Linked DNA regions of Homo sapiens: region 2 is linked to region 1. Evidence: fine-mapped expression QTL. A gene starts in region 1. The other region holds a variant in brackets. All regions are shown on one strand. Distances are from middle to middle. Region 1 holds the start of CRYBG3 (crystallin beta-gamma domain containing 3). Region 2 overlaps GABRR3 (gamma-aminobutyric acid type A receptor subunit rho3).

Evidence for each region.
Region 2: its variant is fine-mapped to the expression of CRYBG3 in whole blood (TOPMed, PIP above 0.99).

What each region holds. Positions count from the first base shown.
Region 1 is chr3:97,815,209-97,827,610 of GRCh38, forward strand. It overlaps CRYBG3 (crystallin beta-gamma domain containing 3), which reads left to right and starts at 6,803. Exons shown (of 22, transcript NM_153605.4): 1 at 6,803-7,147. The coding sequence starts at 6,999. LOC101929298 (a long non-coding RNA gene) reads right to left here and starts at 6,568. Exons shown (of 3, transcript XR_427389.3): 1 at 6,479-6,568; 2 at 3,196-3,295. RefSeq lists a silencer at 6,580-6,949.
Region 2 is chr3:97,999,301-98,007,300 of GRCh38, forward strand. GABRR3 (gamma-aminobutyric acid type A receptor subunit rho3) reads right to left here. Exons shown (of 10, transcript NM_001105580.3): 8 at 2,315-2,467. Among named protein-coding and RNA genes, the nearest start is that of RIOX2, 31 kb to the left of the region's middle. The variant T/C (reference allele first, on the strand shown) is at 4,198.

The DNA of each region.
Region 1 (12,402 bases):
AACACCATTCCAATTTTTGGCATTACTTAAAGTTAATACCAACTGCATGGTTCATAAAAACAATTTGTTCATTAATTGTCTTCTGTACTCAATAATAAAAGCAGTATGTCAATACATTTACCTGTATGAGAAGTAGACCAAATGACTTATATAGAAACTGACTACTTAGAAGAGCTTATTTGGGGAACTGAAAAGAATAAAAATGAAATAGAAGATAGGACATAGAAATGAATGAAAACTTAAGAATGGTTATTAATATGAAATCAATTGAGAATTCTTTTTACTTTGATATTTCAGTAAAAATTTCTATTGAATGCTTATAAAAATATCATTCCTTTTGCTTTTTGTTCTTTGCTAAACAGAGTGCTTCTGCAGTGACTAATCAAACCCCATCATAACAGGGGTTTGGATAGAAATTACTGTCCTTTTAAAGTCAAGTACTCAACATCCTTTCCAGTAACTTTTTGGTCTTTTTTTTTTTTTTTTTTTTGAGACAGGTTCTTGCTCTGTCACCCACTCTGGAGTGCAGCGGCATGATCATGACTCATTGCAACCTCAACATCCTGGGCTCAAGCAATCCTGCCATCTCAGCCTCCCAAAGAGCTGGGACTACAGGTGCTTGTTACCACACCTGGCTAATGTTTTTCTTTTTCTTTTTAGTAGAGATGAGGTCTTACTCTGTTGCTTAGGCTGGTCCCAAACTCCTGGGCTCAAGTGATCCTCCTGCCTCTGCCTTCCAAAGTACTGGGATTACAGGTGTGAGACACTATGCCTGGCCTCCAGTAATTTTCAAAGTGAGAAATAATCGTGGAAATGTGACTAAGTACATTAAATAATAGTTATTACATCTTTTTCATGTTGATATGTGTTTTTTTTTTTTAAAGACATATAGCTAGGCAAGGTGGCTTGTGCCAGTAATCTCAGCTTGCGAGGCTAAGGTGAGAGGATCACTTGATCCCAGGAATTCGAGGCTACAATGCAGTAGTGAGCTAAGATCACACTGCACTTTAGCCTGCGCAAAAGAGAGCCCATCCCTAAACCAAAAACAAAACAAAAACAAAAGGACAAATAAAACACATTTTAGTATCTGCAGTCTCATTCATAAAATTTCCAGAGGTCATGGTAAGGGGCAAAACAAAGAAGAAAACCTAACTTCTTGTCTTCTGTTTACCTCTTTTCATAGGTAACTGCTTTTTTCCTTTACCAGTGAAAAGCTGACTAGAAGAGGTGAGGAAGGAATTCAATTGGTAGGATAAACTAATTAAAATATTGCTGTCTGGTTCTTTTGTTCATTATTTGCAAATCCAGTTAAGTTATACTTTAAATAATTTTTTACAGGTCTTTCAAAATGAAAGTGGGGTCATTAAGAAATGTACTTGCCCCATTTTTAAGAAGTAAAAAATTATGTCATCTATAGTAACATTTGGTTTTATAAGCTCCATATGGATTTTTTTTTGCTACTACCTTTAGCAATATTTTTAAATAAATTTTTCTGGAAGTTTGTTAATGATACTTTCTTTCAGAATGGAGTAAGATTTCCATAGACATGTCAAGTTTATATTCAGCACTATGTTCATCATTTCATCACTCCAAATTGTAATCAAAGTGAATAGATTTCTATTTTATTCTATGCAAAGAAAATTCATGTACAGGAAATTACGTTAATCTCAATTTTAGATTAGGTAAAGTTCCCATGTGAAAACTGGTTCATTTTATATGACAGCATGTAGCATTTCCAGCTGCTTTCTCTCCCTAATCAAAACATTTGCTCACAAAAGCAGCTGCCACTATGCCTTGTTTTTAAACCATTTGCAAGAAATCAAACTGAGAACAAAGTACCCATAGTAAGAAAGCTCTAGCTTCTGGGACATGTATACTATAAAACGTCACAATAAGATAAAAAGGAAACCAGTTCACAGCCACTTTTTCTGTTTTGTTTGTTTTGCTCCAAAGCTTTGTTTCATAAAGCCCTAAGAAACAAAACTTACAACTAACAGTAATATAATGCAGTCTAGAAATTTATAAATAATCATTCTTTATGGAATACTTTTAAAATTGTATATCAGAAGTGCATATTACAGTGCAGAGTTTATGAAGTCAGATGAAATATTTTGGGAAAACAATATAGAGGATGAATTTCTCATCTAATAGTAAATTATTATTCTGAGCCATTATCTACGTCATGCTTATGAAGCTCCATTAATAAAACTTAATATCTTACATATGACCTTATATTTTAGATAGCATTTGACTTAGATAAAAGACACATCACACTGAATTGGTGTGAACAACTATTTTGGAACACATGTTATAATCAGTGTTTGTCAAAGACATGCTACCCCTATTTATACATTTTTAAAAGTACGTTTCAATATTAGCAAATTTTGTGCTGTTTGAAAGCTATATATTTAATTTTTAATGTTAATGTTATATTTTTGTAAAGGACTAATTTCTCTTTGAAGTATCATCATATCAAAGGGAGAAAAGTGTAAATGTAGTTTAGGTCAGACTAACACATTTTACTTAATTTAAGCATTAAAAGATGTGTGTTCGAAAGATCTCAATCTCCACATGTTCCGCAAACAAAAACCAGACAAACAATACAATAAAACATCATGCATCTCATAGAAGTTGGAATAACCAATTACTTAAAAATTTTACCATCTGTTCTCATTGAAGCAGCAAGACAGGCATTTCCCCATGTTACAAACCATGATAATTAGAAAGTAACAATGAGAAATGCTAACATCATTTTTCCCCTTTTTTATTTGCTGTGGGAGTTCTTAATGAAAATTTGAGCATATAAACAAAGGAAAAGAGAAGATATTCCCCCCACCCCACCTCCTAATTGAGTGCTTATATTCAGTAATAGCTTTTTGCTGCCCTGGGCCGCATGACACTGCCTCATTTGGCCACGCACAGCTATTATTCTAGGAGGCAGCTAGTGAAGTGCCCCAATCCATCTGCTTGCTTTTTCATGGGCTGGTGCTTTCCTTGATGTTGACAGCTGTCTTAATATTCCTGGGCCACCTGCCACACAGTAAATACTGTGCTCTAAGATATATACAGAAGCTTATTCCCTGGTGGACTTTTCAGAACAAAAACGCTTAGCATTACTAAACTACTCTTGCAGTTTAAATGCTTCAAGGATCAACACTTTCATTCTATTCTCATACCTTTGAGAATGGTACTTACGTTGTGGGAATGGCAATTCAGTTACAGTGTGATGAACTTCAGGATTTCTCATATATCACACAAGTTATTGAATTACAGTATTATAGGTGGAAATCAGGTGCTAAAAGGAGGCAGAGAAGAAGAGAGCATATTAACAGTTATCTCCTCTAGTGAGCCTTCCAGGAACCCTTCAGATTAAGTTGGGGATCCGTCCTATGTTTCCCATCTTACCCCATTTGCTCATCTTGCCCAATTAAACTTGCTCCTTGATGTTAAGCATTTGGTCTTATCTATCACCGTATCTCTATGTCTAAGAATGAGCATGTATCTGACACATAGTATGCACTAGAGGACATATCCAGGTTTTGTGGGATCTGAAGTTTTTACAATTTGGAGGGTCCTCTTTAAAGAAAAAGGATTTAAAAGAAAATTAGATATAAAAATGAATATATTGAATGAAAACATAAACCATGCAAATTACTAATTTTAAAAGGTTGACTAGAAAAACAATTTGTTTTCTTACTAAATGCCTTGCACAATCACTTTTTTTCCTATATTTTTGGCAGTGTACTCTTCAATAGCCTTTCATATGACAATAATTTAGTAATATTATTTTCCATAATAATGAAAAGATAATGCAATCTTTCCTCTAGTTCTGTTTTTCTTATTGATAGAAAGGCTGTGTAAACATGCAGTACTACACACACACACACAAAGCTTGTGGTACTGCTACAGGTTTGTACCCTACAAACAAGAATTCTGATAAATTCTATTTTACATGGTTTACATCAACAAGAAAAAATGTTTTGTGTTTACAGTTATAAAAATTATTTTGGGTGGCTGAGACGGGTGGATTACCTGAGGTCAGGAGTTCGAGACCAGCCTGACCAATATGGTCAAACCCCGTCTCTACTGAAAATACAAAAATTAGCTGGGCATGGTGGTGGGCGCCTGTAGTCCCAGCCACTCTGGAGGCTGAGACAGGAGAATTGCTTGAACCCAGGAGGCGGAGGTTTCAGTGAGTTGAAATTGCACCACTGCACCCCAGCCAAGGTGACAGCGCCAGACTCTGTCTCAAAAAAAAAATTAAATATACTGCATTATTGAATATATTATTGCTATGAGAGAAATTACATCAATCGGAGGCAATCCTTCCTGTTGAAACTTTGTCTTCTGATGCCTGGAATAATTTTCCACATGACACCTGATGCTGCTTTACCTTTCAAATCTTGTCTCACCTCTATTACCCACATATTTTCAGTGTCAGAGACCACAGAATATATCTCCTCTGGCTCTGCATCTTGGGTGTAATACTTGGTGAGCTGCGCTACAAACAAATTGGAATTTAAGAAATAACTATACTTTGGAGAGGCTGGAAACCACATAAATATATTCCACTAAGTCCAAACTAAATATATTCCCAACTGAAATTCCCTAGCAGATTCCCAAATGCTCTTGATAACTCTAAGTGGAAAAGAAAATCTAAGTGGACATCTAAGTGGAAAAAAAAAGAGATTGTGGTCTTAATCACATTAAAACATTTACTTTTGTAAATTTGATAAAACTGGCCATGGATCCCATTGCTGAGTTCACACTGGAAGAGACTGTGCCAGCAGGGAGCCAAGAAACTTGAGCCTCATCGGCTTCACTGTAGATGTGCTTCTACTGCAGGCACTCACTAAACGTCGGGGAATAACTGGATCAGTGAATTAATGACACTGTGCTAAATTAGTATCTCTAAGATCCTTACAGCTCTAAAATTTGACATTTTTACAGGCTTCCTAATGCAATCTTAGAATTTAGTATTTAGAAATTTGTTCATATGAGTTCAGGTTATAACAATGTAGGACATATAGAAAACTAATAAGTGCTCAGAAAGCAAATGAAGGAAAATTCAATGGTCATTGTTTTATGACTTTAAGCTATTTTGTCATAGACGCAATTTGTCTTAGTGTAAACATGGCATTATTTGTATTTACCATTCACTTAAGTGCTTTGCTGTGCTACCGAGTGGAGATCAGAGTATTGTTAGATATATTATTAGTTAAAACCATAATTCATTAATTAAATCCTATTGACTCCCCCCCATTTTTATTCCAAGAAAAACTTCCTGAACGAAGTACCCTCTGGGTAGGCACTGGGGCCTGGTTTGATCACAGAACAAGTCAGGGACAAATGTGATAGTCATTCAATAATACGTTGGGAAGACAAATTATCATTTGGGCCTTTTAGCTGGAAGAAACAGTTTGCTTTATTACTCTCTTTGGGCTTTTTGGTAAGTGGGTCTTCAGTGGAGATTCTCTTATAAAATAATAAAGCTAGAATTGGGAACTTGTCTTATTCTAGTCTATTATCTTAGTCTTTTTCTATTTTCTCAGACTAGGCTCACAGAGAAATAGGAAAAATTTACCAAAGAGTAAAAAAGGATTAATCTTGAGGGATAGACTGAGATGAACCCGATTGATGGAAATCGGGCTGACTGAACTTTAATGGGTTAAATCCTGCCAGAACAAATGAGAATGAGTGTCTTGGCTCTATTGCAGTTAGTAGGAGCTGGAGGGCTTCTGGGAGGCAGCGTGGGGAGGCAGGGAGGCTCAATAGCCTCCAGCAGGTGCTGAAAGGACTTGGGGCTTATAGGTATGCAATCTACTTATGAGCAACCTTCTCCTCCAGCACCCGAAAGCCAGAGGGGAGATTACTCCAAGGCTCCCCTCTGCTGTGGACATTTCATTTTTATCTCATTTACTTGTATACATTTTTTAATGAACAAAAGCCATATCACTTCCTTGACGTCTACTCCAGGGGCAGCTTGCCTTCAAACAAAAACAAAACACTTGGGGTGAATGGGCCTCTCAGTATCTCCTGTACTAGCTGCTATAGGGTATGAAAAACCAAGAAAAATCCATACCACTGTACTTAGACTTAAAACAAGTCTTAAGCACCCTTTGGTTCCCAGATTTCAGTGGCATCTGTGTAACGACTGCAAAATATGTTGCAGCATTGACAAGCTTGAAATCATACTTTTTGATCAGTGCCGTTTTTGAAAGAGTTCGCAGGGAAGTATGGCGTGTGAAAAGTCTGAAGCACAGCGCGGTTAGGAAAAGTCACACCACAGAAAGCCAGCAGAACGCGCCGGGAGGTGGTGACCGCCTGACAGGTACCCCCTTCTCCCTCCCGCCGCCCGGTTCTGTGCTAACGCGACTTTCGCCCTCAGGGTTGGAGCTGTATTTGCGGTAGCTGTTTCTTAGCTCCCAGCAAGTCCGGGGCGCCCCGGTACTGCAGTTTGCCAAGTGTTTTCACAAACCTTAGTTCATAAACCTCTTTCAAAAGCCCGAAGAAAACCGTTTCTGTGCTCTGACTGTAGAATAGAAAACACAACGGTCACAGAAAGTAATTGAAGGCAAAGCCCAACAGGCTGCAGCCTGAACTTGTTTGAGCCGTAAGCCCGAGCCTAGCGTCGCACGCTGGGCGACTCCCCTCAGGCTCTCAGGCCGGCGCCTTCGGGGGACCACGTAGCGCCCCAGCGGTGGCGGCTGCGCCCGGCTCAGGGCGGTGCCGCGGCCACTGGCTCCTCCTCGGGGTGGGGCGGGCCGCGCCGGGCGAGGGCGGGAGGAGGAGCAGCCGCAGCGGCGTGAGGAGCTGCCGCGCGAGGAGCGCGTCGCGTCCGCACTTCTCCTGCCCGAGAGAGACTGAGCCGCGCTGGCAGCTCGCGTCGAGTCGGTCTGCCCTAGCCGCATCCCGCGGCGCCCGGTCGGGCTCCGGGCACCAGGCAACACCTAGGCCGTTCCCTTCAGACAGCCCCGGGCCAGCGGCCCCCTCGGGAAATGTCCAGCGGCCGCAGAAGGGGCAGCGCCCCCTGGCACAGCTTCTCCCGGTTCTTCGCTCCCCGAAGTCCTTCCCGGGACAAGGAAGAGGAAGAGGAGGAGAGGCCGGGGACGAGCCCGCCTCCAGCTCCAGGCCGGTCCGCTGCCAGGTGGGAGTCGAGGAGGGGGTCGCGGGGGGGCCCTGCACATATTCGCGGGATGAAGGCTCCCGGCCTGACCGCCGGCAGCGGGCCGCTCTTGGGCCAGGCTGCAGTTCGCTCGCCACTTTCTGTTCTCCTTCCTCCATTGCTAAAGTTTCCTCCTCCTTGCCCCGTTCCCGTGCCGCACTACTCGCCTCTCCTCTGCAGGTTAAATCGGGGTGAAGTTCTTGCCCGGCAGCCGGACGCATATCCCCCGATCCCCGCCTGGCTCCGCGCTCTTCCTTTCCCACTTTCCCCTGCCCGGACGTGATTGGGTTCCCGTTCCACACACGCTCTACTCTCCAAGTTCTGTGGCAAAAGCGATTTCCCCGGCGTCCCGCCTGCAGTAATGGGAAACACTTGTGAGCCGAGCGGAGCCGTCGGCCAGGGGAATTGGGGGCGCGATCCCAGCACCACTTGTGTGGGAGGAGATCGGGGCAAAAGTGGAAAAGGTAAAGCTTTGGGGCGTCACCCCCTCAGCTGGTATTTTTGCCATCTTATTTAAATTTTCTCAAAATGATTTTTAAAAGGAATTGTGATAATGCGTTCCCAAGACTTTCACCAAAATGGACTGGACATGTAAATGACGCCACCCTTCTTTATTTCTCATCTCTCCTAGAAACATCTGCCTCAAGTTCCCAAACAGATTCTGGAAATCAGGTTTCCAGCTGTCTTGGTTTCAGTAATCAAAATGTACCCTTTCTCTGTAATATTTTTATCTTTCCTTCACTTTCCCATGTTCAAAAATCAAAAAATTTTAGACATGCCTCATTTAAATGCCTGTTTCTGAGTCTTTTCATCCCCCCGAAGAAAGAGGGGTTAAGTAAAACGCAGCTCGCTTTCTTAAACTTATGAGAGGCTTACACTGTCTTCTCCCGAGATTGCACTAGAATGACCATTGTCATTGGAAGGACACACTCCAGAAAACCGTGTTTACTTCGGACTCAAGATTTCCTGGTGGGCTTAAAAAAAATGGATAGGAAACAGAACTGAGAGTGAGCCAATTCCATTAGTATTCAGATTTTGTGATGTGATTTTAGTCGTTTGTGTGTTCCTCGGTTTCCCCGCTTGTGAAACATTTTCATTATGACCGTCTGTTAATAACATGCCACATGTTTCCAAGAAAGCTCCTACGATAATTGAGTGGTTATTCTCCTGGGACGTTTCAGCTATTATTGCTCTGACTGTTGAGAGTTTAAAATTCAAAGTTACACAGAAGTTAAAAATAGTTTTTAAGTCTGACAGATCTCATCCAGGGTGTCAGCTAGTTCTGTTGGTGTGGGCAGACAGCCTGTGGTGCCTGCCACCGCCGTAACAGCACTAACAGTCTTGGATAATATGAACGCAGTCTGCAAGGAAATCCCAAGTAGGCGCAGCAAAAGTTGGGAACTTGAGAGTCAGTGTTAGAAAGGAGTAAGCAGGTCAAATTCAGGCTCATGTCAGTAATGGCCTGAAATCCTGCTTGCCTCTCTGCCCTATTTTGGCTTTTTAAGGCACTTCTCAATTCTAATTTCTTTACTGACTGGAGCTGACCCCTCCAGCAACTAGTTCCTTGTTCACCTACCACTTCTCTATTCTCATCATCTCCAGATTGGCACAAATTATGGCTTTTCAACGATGAAGATTTTAATTGTGCTTATATCAACGCTAATTTTGTTCTCATCTTTTTTGGAACTTGCCAGATGTTAGGGGGATAGCAGATGACCCTTTATGTGGGTGTTTTACTGTTTTAAATGAGCTTAAATCTTTCATTTCAAGGGCATAAACAAACACAAAGCCTTTATTGAAAGTTTAATAAAACAAATGGAACCGCTTTATAGTACTGAATGTCCCAGTAACACAACACCCTGATGTTAACAAGATTGGAAACAGAATTGCAATTTGTCACTGTGATCTTATTTCAAAATGAAAGAGTATTTTGGCTATTTCTCTTTGTGGGCATAAAAACTTTTATCATTATGAGAGCTGGGTATACCTTCTGTAGTGATGATTTTAGATGAAGAGGAGTACAAAATTAAAAAATAAACTAAAACATAATTATGAGACCCGTAAAAGTCGAATTTACAACATCCTGAAACTGTTTTTTTGCCTGCTCACAAAATGCGTACTGGGACAAACACCAGGTCTTTGGGGAGCTGCCATGCCTTGATACAGGTCTTCCAATATTTTACTGTTTTGAACCATAGGAAAATCTTTGTTTTTATGGTGTGCTGTGATTTATATGGGCTTCAGTTGGTGACAACACTTCATTATGTATTCTTTCTTTGTCACAATTAAAGAAGGCCTATTAGCATCAACACTATTGTATATCCCAACTTAGGCGTAGGCACTCAAATTGCTTGATTGTACTCATATTAGGTGGTTGACCATTTCCAGGAAATGCTTATATTAATTTATTTTAGATGATAAAAAGGAAAACTGCAATTGAAGTTTTCATAGGAAACTCAAAAACTCCCAGAGTTCTGTGGATCCCAGTTTGAGAATCACTGGTGCAGTGTTAAGCCCAGTTTATAAGCATACAAGGAATGGACTCATTAGAAGTGATAGGGGAGACCAGGAAGTGCTTCCTGGTAGGGATGATTTTAACTGGGTCTTCAAGGAATTGGTGATGTTTCTATACAAAGAGAACTTAGGAAGAGAGAGAATAGGGAACAGGTATTCCGGGAAAAGGCATTCCAGACTGAGCAAAGGCCTGCAAGGGGTTTATGATCTGTTAGGGGATATATACATTAATGGGACAGAGTGAAAGGAGCAGTAAGAAATTTAGGTTGGAACTGGGTTATAAAGGTCTCTAGACAAAATGTTTGGCTCTAGATTTAAGGCTCAGAGAATTTTTGCAAAAGCCTGTTATACAGATATTGCTGAAATATGAAACTTGGAGGAATTCCTGCCTTTATCTGCTTCAAGAAATGATTGCTCAACTTTGTTTCTTGGCTGTATCATGCATGATGGACCTGTTTAAAATGAGTTCTGTGCAATGTTTGTAACTGTGAAGAGAGATGGTAAGGTGAGAACAGTATTTATCAAGGGCTGACTGTGCACTTACTTCTGGGCTGGGTACTTTTACTTGCAACGTATCATGTAAATCTCACACTCAGTGTGAAATGTTGGTCCACTTTTACGATCTGACAATTGAAGAAACTGAGTTTGGGAGAGTGCTCAGTGATGGATGCTATGGGCGTTTTGAATGGAACAATTCTTTGAACTGGACTCTTTTGTCCTTTGCAAGATGTTTGGTATCCATGATTACACACACTAATTGCCAGTAGCATCCTCTGGTCATTGGGATAACTGAAAATTCCTCCACCCAGGTGGGTGGGAGGGAGAGTGATACCACTCCCAGTGGAGAGTGATTACCCTAAATCGTGAGAGGAGGTGAATGGGTGGGACCAGGCTGCTAATGAGCTGTGGTGTAGGAGGTACTCTGTACTGTCAGAAATGTCAGTAGTACTTCTGATGACCAGCATGGGAGAGCTATTGGCCTTCAGGTTAAACTACCAGTGTTGACAACAGCATCAGTTATGTGAGGAAAGGAAGCTTTGTTTTCTAAATTGTCATGATGATTGCATTTTTATTGATTTGAAGCACTAAAAATAATTGGTAACTAGTTAGTTGGATAGGAGATACCTGTGTCACATCAGCAGTTCATGCCTTCAGTAGTGAAGATGACGAGAGAATTCCAGAAGTCTTTAGGGGTGTGTAATTTGTGAGAATCTTGTCCCCCTCTGCTCCTCTAGGTTAATTCAAAGCAAAAGCTTACTCTTGGCAGCAGAGTCAAAATATAGCCTGTTGTAGGGTATCAAAAGTCCACCTTTTCCAAGTGATTTCCATCTCTTGGGTTCAATAAGGTGTCTACCAGATGGCTAATTTGGGAATTCTATTTTTTGCTGTGAACATTCCTTGGAAATGGACTCAATTGTATGCTCTGAAAGTGTTAAAGTTGCAAAGGTACCACAAATTGACCTGCAGTAAGTTTATATAATCAGAACTTCTAACTTTATTGACAGTTATAACATTTTTAAGTTTTTTTACTCATAACAGCGGAAAATATGTAAAAAGGGTAATAGCAAGTTTTGTAAAATAAGAGAAAATATTCCCTCAAGACAAAATATTTTCTATCCAAAGTTCTGATGAAATATACCAAAGTCCAGATATAAGAAACGTTAGTTACCAATTATTAAATAAAATGATAGCAACAAACTGTAGGTGGTTGTAAAATTAAGGAAAATAATCTAGGCTATATGCTGAAAAGAAGGAATCAGCATGAAGTAAAAGTTAAGGAGGTAATACCTACTTTGAGTCTGTTCAATCCATAAGTTAGAGTGGCTGCTTTGTGTCTCATATGGTGCAAAGCAATGTGGATATAACCATAAATGGATGACCAAATATGCCTTCATAGAATTCACACATTAATGGAGGAGATAAAAGTGTACATCTCTGTTCTTAATATGAACTCATTATAAACCAAACATGTCTTTGGAGTGTGTGACTTGTTTCGTTCAGAGCATACTTAATGTTTCACGAATGTCATACGTTGTATGAGAACTTTAACTGGGCTTTCAAAATATGTTCTCACATTATTAACTTTTCTCCAAGCATGGTTTGGTTAGCTTCCTTTGCCAAGGCAGCATAGTGGGGGAAACATGATAGTAACTGCACCATCAAGGTGAATGGAAATGCTGCCCCTTGGTTCCTCTTGCTTTCCTCCTTGACCCTTCAGGCTTTGCAAGTCCTGGATAGAGGCAGAAAAGGGCATCCCTTCGGGAATCAACATTCCAAAAAAGTGGCAGTGCTTTTTTTTTGATGGAAAGAAGTTGAGACAGGATTGCTAGACCCAAGGTCAGGGGCTTTGTCTTCATCTTTGCGTCCCCTTAGTTCAGGTGAGGAGTGACTGTTGATTGGAGCATTAAAGGACTTATTAGTAACATTCAGCTAGGGGTGGTACCCTCCCCAACCTTCAAGTAGGCACTTAGAAACACCAGGAAGGTTGATGCTGTTAGAGAACAAATCGAAGTTTTTCCACTAGTAATAAGTCATTCTTAGTGTTTATTTGGCAGTTGTACGTGGCCAAGTAATGGTACAACTCCATCCAGCAGGACTGTCCCTGAATGTTTTACTTACTCCCAGGAGTTTTTAATTGGAAGTATGCTAAAGCACTGAAACAAGAGCTTAACCAAGTGTGTGTTTGTTTTCTTTCTTCCTAATCAATTAATGATGACAAAAAC
Region 2 (8,000 bases), 180 kb after region 1:
TATTTATGCTTCATACTTTCACTCTCTTTCCTTACTATCATCCAGCTACAGGTCTGTTGGCACATGCTTCATCCCTGAAGTCTGGGTTCCCAAGGAAAGACTCGGTTCTAAACAGGCTGAACGCTTGTAGTATCTGAAGGTGAAGTCCAGTATACAACTGAAAGTACCCAAATGGAACATGCTTACATACGGACAGTAGTTGGAATTAAAAAGTTTGTTCCATTTGATAAGAGTCAAAAGTGAGCAGATCCTTGGGAGGGAGTTACTCATACTTAAGGAGTGGAAGAAAAAGCAGGAAAGAGAAAAGGAAAAAAAAGTCTTTGGGAGTAGAAAAAAACTAGACTAGCGGAGAGTATTGAAAGCTAATGCATTGTGTGTGTAGTTGGTTTCATCCAACACTATGGGCCAGGCATCAAGCTAGGCAGTTGACATGATGAAATTAATTAATTCTCCCATTTAATTCTCATAGTGACCTTTAGGAGGTAGTATGAATAATTTCATTTTGCAGATGAGGAAGATGAGGCTGGAACTCTTGACCACTAAAGTTGGTCCTAGATTTGGAGAGGATGCCTAATAATGTCAAATGCTGTGGAGAAGGTGAAGGAAGGAGGCAGAAGAGAAAAGGTAATTGGGACAGATGAATAGGTATTCATAGGGACCTTCCAGAGAATTGGGCAGCTAAGCATTTGCAAAGAGCTAGGGAAGAAGAGGGCAAATTATCTTTGAAAAAAAAGTGAGGGTGGTAGGAAGCAAATCCTGAGAAGGTAACAGTTTTATAGGAATACTACTGTTCTCTTAAAATAATTTTTTTAAAAAGTGGGAGAGGGACACTTCTGATTTGCATGCATTTTACATAAATCTGCATAGCAATTTCCTAACCCTAAGGGATCAGATGTGGTTGCAAGAAGCAGAGAATTTCAAGGATGTCTTAAAAGTGTTTTAGTGTTCCCAATTCACTCCACCCTTCCATGGAAGTAGCTCTTATTGCTGTCATTTTCACAGTATAAGAGCAGAGCAGTCAACTTCAGAAATATGACTGAAAATCATGTTCATAAACGTTTATAGACTGAGTGCTTTCCTCATTGTGTCTAGAGGGCTGGAAATGTGCCCTTGGTCTTGTATTTGGGTCTATGCTGCCACACTGCAGTACTGAGGTTAGGGCACATGCTCTGATGTGAAGAAACAGTTCAAATAATTTAATTACTTATTCAGATGGTATTTTTTCCTTGAAGATATTCAAGTCTCAAATGCTTGTAGATTGAATATTTTAATAGGGAAAGGAGGTGAGCAAATTGTTAATATTAATAATTTATGTCTTTCAAATGATCTTTTGAAGTATGCATATAATTTGTGAACATTAACTTACAAACCACCCTTTCTGGAATGAATTGTGTGATAATTACAATAATTGTAACAATGATTGTAATAATAACAATCTCCTCTCTAGATAGAGCACTACAAATGAAAGAGCAAAATCAGATAAAATGAGGGGGATCAGCCCTGACCAGCAAAAAAGGCAAGTGGGATTATCTCTTGGGTTCTCATTAAGTAACATGTCATCTAAGTGCTTAGCTTGGTATCTTCTACTTTCTAAGATCTCAATAACTGCTAAGTGGGTCTGAAATGGTTCCCATAAATCAGTGTGTGTGACAGAGGCATATAGCATGTTAGACGGTGTAGATAATCAACCCTGTGTAGTGACTTAATGAGGCTGGCAACGTCTCTCCACCTAAAATCTCCTGCCAACTAATATGCCACTGTACCTGAAATTCCACTGTGGTTGATTCTGATTTTGGTCTTTTAGTTAAGTCCTAATTTCTAATCAGTATTCATATTTTCAAATTCAAGCATCCCTTCCACATTCTTGTTAACCCACCAAGGTAATTTGTTATTAATACACTAAGAGTATAGTGTGAATTAGTTTGAAGGTTTTCCTTTCTGTGATGTAAGGGTTTGTCCTGAAAAGCTAAATGGACTTGTATAAAGCATGGGGAGGTTTTCTTAAAAAAGAAAAGAGATAAGCTTTAAAAGTGAGGCTGTTTATGCTTCATAATTTCACCCCCTTTCTTTACTATCACCCAACTGCAGGTCAGTCAGCAAAGACTTCATCCCTAAAATCCGGGTTCCCAAGGAAAGAACTCAATTACAATTTGCCCTTGAGGATGTCAAGATCGATACTGCAACCTGGATGTTCATCTCTGACTATCCCTACTAAACCACCACTCTCTTTTCCTCTCCATGTATGACCCATTTTATTTACCTCCCTTGAACTTTCTCCCATGTTAACATTTTATAAAGATGGGGAAAGATTTACCCAGGGAAACTCTTGCAGGAACAGCTCTTCGGTCAATCCAAAATGAAACCCATGAAAGCATCACCATCAATATGGCTGGGAAATAGGTTTGCAGCACAAAGAAGAAAACATGCCTCCTTAGCACAAAGTTGATGAAAAGCCTATTGTACCAACCTGTGGAAAAAAGCCAAAGTTTTCATTAGAGCAAGCTTCCCCTTAGAAACACTGCACTTAGTGAAATGACCTGCTTCTTTAGACTCCAAGCTCTTGGGGACACGGAATTTGACAAACTCATCTCCATTTAGTTGGGCCTGGCACTCCATCAACATTTGTTCAACCAGCTGAACTGCAGTCTGCTTAATTATTTGACTCAAAGATCCCCTTTAACTTCCAAACCCGCAGTTCAGGGATGAATAGTGGTTATCTTTTGTGGGATGGCCTCTAAAGATCTGTCTCCACAATATATTGTATTGTGGCGTTTCTGCAAGAGGGAAAGTCTTCAATACATGACTAATAATGGCATAAAAGAACCAATAAACCATTTATTAGCTATAACAAATGAAAAAAACATTTAACTGAATGAAAAGATTCAGAGTATGTACTAGGTCATTGGATTTTGACCTGAGATGGAGACAGCTGGGGATTCAAAGGAGAAAGAAAACAGCATCCATAAGCTAGTTTTACAATTTTAAAGTCTCACAAGTACCATAATTTGTGCATGATGAATCTGCAAAAAAGTAACCAACTGATGTTTCTTTGCTTCCTATTGAAATTATATAAACTCACGTTGGTAATATTAACTGCGCTAATTAAAAGCACCATTTGTGGTGACATCCACACACACATTTTGTTCAGGTTTACCTCTCCCATTGACTACAAGGAAGTTTAAAGCCAAATTTTCAGACATCTACAGGACTTCTCTGAGCACCATTCTTTAATGACCACATACACATACCAGGATATATATAATACCTTATCCTTGTTTTTCTTTTTTTTCTCATACATTTCTAATTTATATTACCTTGCTTTATTTCACAATAACTATGTGCTAATCTTGTTAAATCTTTACTAAAATAAGGCAATACATGAGGAAACATGGAAATACATCTTTTCTGAATAAGTAGCAAGATTTTTTTTCTATGATAAATGCTGTTTATTTTCAAATAACATTATTCAAAACACAGGGACTATAGGTCAAAAGTTATAAAATAAAAATCATAGGTATTGCAGAGTTGGAAAACCCTTCTGCTAGTCTCAGCAGTAATTTCTTAGAAACCCAAGACGGCAAACCTATTAGATGGATCACTTAAGTACTTAGGCATTTGGCCTAAGAAATACACCTGGCCAACCCACACTGAACTGGCAGACTCTACTCTTAGAATCCTATTCTCAATGAAATACTCATTATCTTTTTCTTCCTTACCTAGTTCTAAGCTTCTAACAGTCAGTTTATATATGTTCAGGAATACCAAACAATTTTATTACCAGGAGTAATAAAATATACATCACATAGTACATTATAAAGTTAAAATATAAATTATTTTTAAGCTTCTCATTGTCTTGTATCACCTACATCACAGCCCCAATTTATTACTGTGTACCACTGAGAGTTTCAGTGATGGCTGTAGAGTACAATAACAGCTTTCTGACCTTACAACTTTATATAACTACTGTGAGGTTAAAAGAAATAAGGAAAACCTGTGAAAGAAATTCAAAAGAAAGACAGTATTAAGGTATATAGTTTTCTGTTCATTATTAACTTGAAATAAAATTAGTTAACTGCATCCTTTCTTTATTCATAATTTTCTGAAGAACAGTTGTCCTTTTTTTTTTTTTTTGGTGGGGTGGGGGCAGGGTGGAGTAACCAGGAAGTCAAACTGTGGCTCTGTCTTGTGGTTTTAGAC[T/C]AGGGGTGGTATTTTAGTTGAACCTGCAGGTCATGGGGAGTCCATTTCCCTATCAGGAAAGGTGGTGCTGCCTTGGAACGTTGTGAAGCCTTCATTTTGGGTAGTACAATAAAAAGTCTGATTCTATTTTTGATGTTTGACTGCTAAAAGCTCTCAAGCCCAACTTCTCCTTCTGCCCTACATCTGAGCAAGTTAATAAAAAGCCTAGGTCTCTTTTTGGCACCTGTGAAAAGTTCAAACCATGCATCTTGTCCTACGACAGGCAGCCTTCACCCTAGCTGCACCCCCTAGCTACCATAAAAACCCAAGCCAGTAGCCCCTTCCTGTTTTCTCAAGCCATTTTTCATTTCAGACCTGCTTGGGAGCCTGCCCATCTCTCTCTAGAAAGCCTCATTATGTAAGTAATAAATCACTTCATACCCTTTTGTCATGTGTATGGCATCATCAGTTTTGGCATCTGAACTAAATTTTGGATGGGGACGGGTACATCTGCCTCCATTAGTTTGCCATACAGTAGAAAGAAGAGGAGTTAATAACAGAGAGAAAAAGGCTAGAGAGTTGGCACCCAGGGAAATGGAGGACTGGGCCAGTATTTGGGGAGTCAGTCCCAAGACAAGAATAAAGAAGGTTTTTATACCTAGAGACAGTCACCTTCAATGGCCCTTTGAAAGTAGGCCTTAATACTCTCTATGAAAAGGATCAAAATAATGTGGATGAAAATAGGGTGATGATGACAGCTACTAACTAATATTTATTGAGCCTCTATTATATGGCAGATAACATTCTAAGGTACTTAACTATATGACATCATGTATCCTCACAACCCTATGATATAGAGAGTATTATGAAACCCATTTAAAGATGAGAAAGTTAAGGGTTAGAGAGATTAAGCAACTTGTCCAAGGTCAGGTTGCTAATAAATGATAGAGACAGGGTTTGAACTTAGGCAGTCTGTTTCTACTACTTACACATTCAGCCATTAGATTATGCTATGATAAAGAATAATTATTCAATGCATCCCTTAGGGGCAGGAGTCATTTCTTTTTTCTTTGTAAATTTATAGTGCATGATTTTGAGAATTTTGAGAAAGGGATCAGGAGGCAGAAGCCCTCATCTGCTTGTTAATATTGCCAGGTCGTGGTGATTTTTGAACAGTGGCAACGGTAGTGGTGAAGGCCAAGAAAAAAAAAAAAACACCCTGTTGTTCAGCTGTAAAATGGAAACTAAGGTCCTATAACTATATTTCTGACTCTTATAGCCAGAGTCAGATGTATAGTTTTTCTATACACCTGGGAGTGGTGGTTGTGGCTGGTAGTTGTAAGGATAGGAGTGAAGAAAACAAATCAAAAATTATTTTTGAGGAAGCTAAAATATTTAAACAGGAAACTAGTCTGAAAAAGACACTTGAGTTTGTCAGAAGATTATGTTTAATGATTCGTGGATAATGTGAGGCAGAGCTATCACATGCTCATGAACTAAAATAAGTTTCTAAATGTAATCTTTCCGAAACCTAACTAAGGGATGGTTAAATGAACCCAGATATGATTATTGATTTGATATTTGAATACAACTTCCAAAATGCCTCCCTTCGGCATTTTTCCTACCAATCTCTGTCATTAAAAAAAATGGGTATATTGTAACAAATTAAAAAATACAAGTGTTTTTTGTACCTACTTCTCAGAGGTATCTATTGTTAATCTTTCTAGGCTTTTAACACACACACACACACACACACACACACACACGATATGCACAGATATGTATATAAGCACTCATGCACTCATAAATATGTATACATACATTCTTCAATAACAAATATGGGATTTTTAAAATATATTCTTCCGTAACTTGCTTTTAAAGAATATTAATGTATTATGGATAAGTCTCCTTCTCATGTTACACAAAGCATGTACATTTGAACCTAATTCTAATTTTTTTTCATTTTTCTTAGGAACCAAAATGATATTTCTTAAAAATGTAACTACCTTTGAACGTTAAAGATTTGTAAGTTCATTTTAAAATGCAAGCATCTTTGTAAGCAGTAAGTTTTTCCATGCCAGTATTTTCCTGGCTTTAGAGAGATTCTAAAACATGACCAGAAAAAGATATAAATCAGCTAGTGTTGTAGCTGCCTGGTAGGGCTCAAAAAGTCTGACAAGCACAAATAAAATTATGGTAGAGCAAATGGAATGATTTAGTGGTAAAGTTAGAATTTTGAAGTGAAATTTAACTTCCTGTTAGGAGGACGGTTGGATATATGTTAATGGATAGTTGTGCTTCAAAAGCTAAAGAAATGCCATAATTATTGTATATTTTGCATATGTTCTGTGCATGAGACAATTCTTTTTGATTTCTATGCTTCATATATATTACATTATATTAGCATTAAATGTTGCAAATATCTATTTACAATTTATCATATGCCAAAGTTATTTTTCATTTTAGCAATAGTAAAATGAAAACACATCCTATAAATTATACTTCACATATACCATGCTTCATTGCATACATTCTTTTATTTAAATATTAATTTAATTTAGGATTAAGTAAGAACATTAAAAATCCTGATAAATATATGCCTATATTTATTCATATAGAGAAAGACAAACCGAGAAAAGGAGGAGAAGAAGGAGGAGCAGAAAAATATATCAAAATAATAATATAGTTTATCTCTATGAGGTAGGATTACAAAGAGATTTTCCTTTAAATTTTTCTGAGGTCTCTTCAAATTATCTAACATTTATTCATTCATTCAATAATTAGCCTTTGAGCATCTACTATGAGCCAGGGATATATCAGTGATCAAAACAAATAAATATGTGCTACTTACATAATCAGAAAAGGCAATAAACATGATTAAAATTGAGAGCATCATTTGCTGAATCCCAAGCAATGTAGACAAATAATGGAGTGAAATAGAGAATTTCTTCTGGGTCTAAATAGATAAATAGCTGTTGTTCCTAGAGAATCATTTAACTTCTCTGCAATGTCAACTTCTACTTCTCTCTTAAAGCTGCAGGTTTTAGATACAAACTTGATAACTACTCTCCAAGATCTGAGAACAGAGTGGAGAATCTTTGAGGAGAAGAGACACCACTATCAAGGCAGAGTAGGTAAAGCATTCTAGCCAGGACAGCTCTGAAACTCAGGGACAGCTGTTGGCACACTTTCTGGCTGGCCTAAGCATGGCTGCATTGAATCTGAAGTGGCATTTTATATGGATTCGGCCTAAAATAACCCAGAATATTAATATCCAGAAGGGGAATGATAGTGGAGGGTGAGGAGGGCAGAGGGGAACCGAAGGAGGCTGCTTCCAACTTTAGTCAATGGGGATCACATATAACTTTAAAAGGTGTCTTGGATAAAAGTTGTCAATTCAGAAATATATCTGTCATAGTAAAGAGTACTATATAGGCCCAATTTTGGATAGGTTTTCTGTTTGGGGCAATGATGCACTTTATGGATGGATTCATTCAGCTGATTTTTATTGAGCATCTGTCACGTGCCAAGAACATTCCAGGTGCTGCAGAAGAAATGGTGAGCAAGGCAGACAGATTCCCCACCCTTTTCCTGGTGAGGCACTCACACAACAAAGCAGTCAAATAAACGCATAGTTCAGGTGATGGTAAGTGCTGTGATGACCGAGATAGGGAACGGTGAGAAAGGAAGCCTGTTTTACACGGGGTTGGTTTGGTTAGGAAAGCACTGTTTGAGAAGCTATTTGAACAAAGCTCTGACTGAAATGAGGGAGAAGGGCATGAGAATATTGGGGGAAAGCACCCCAGGCAGAGGGAGGACAAGGC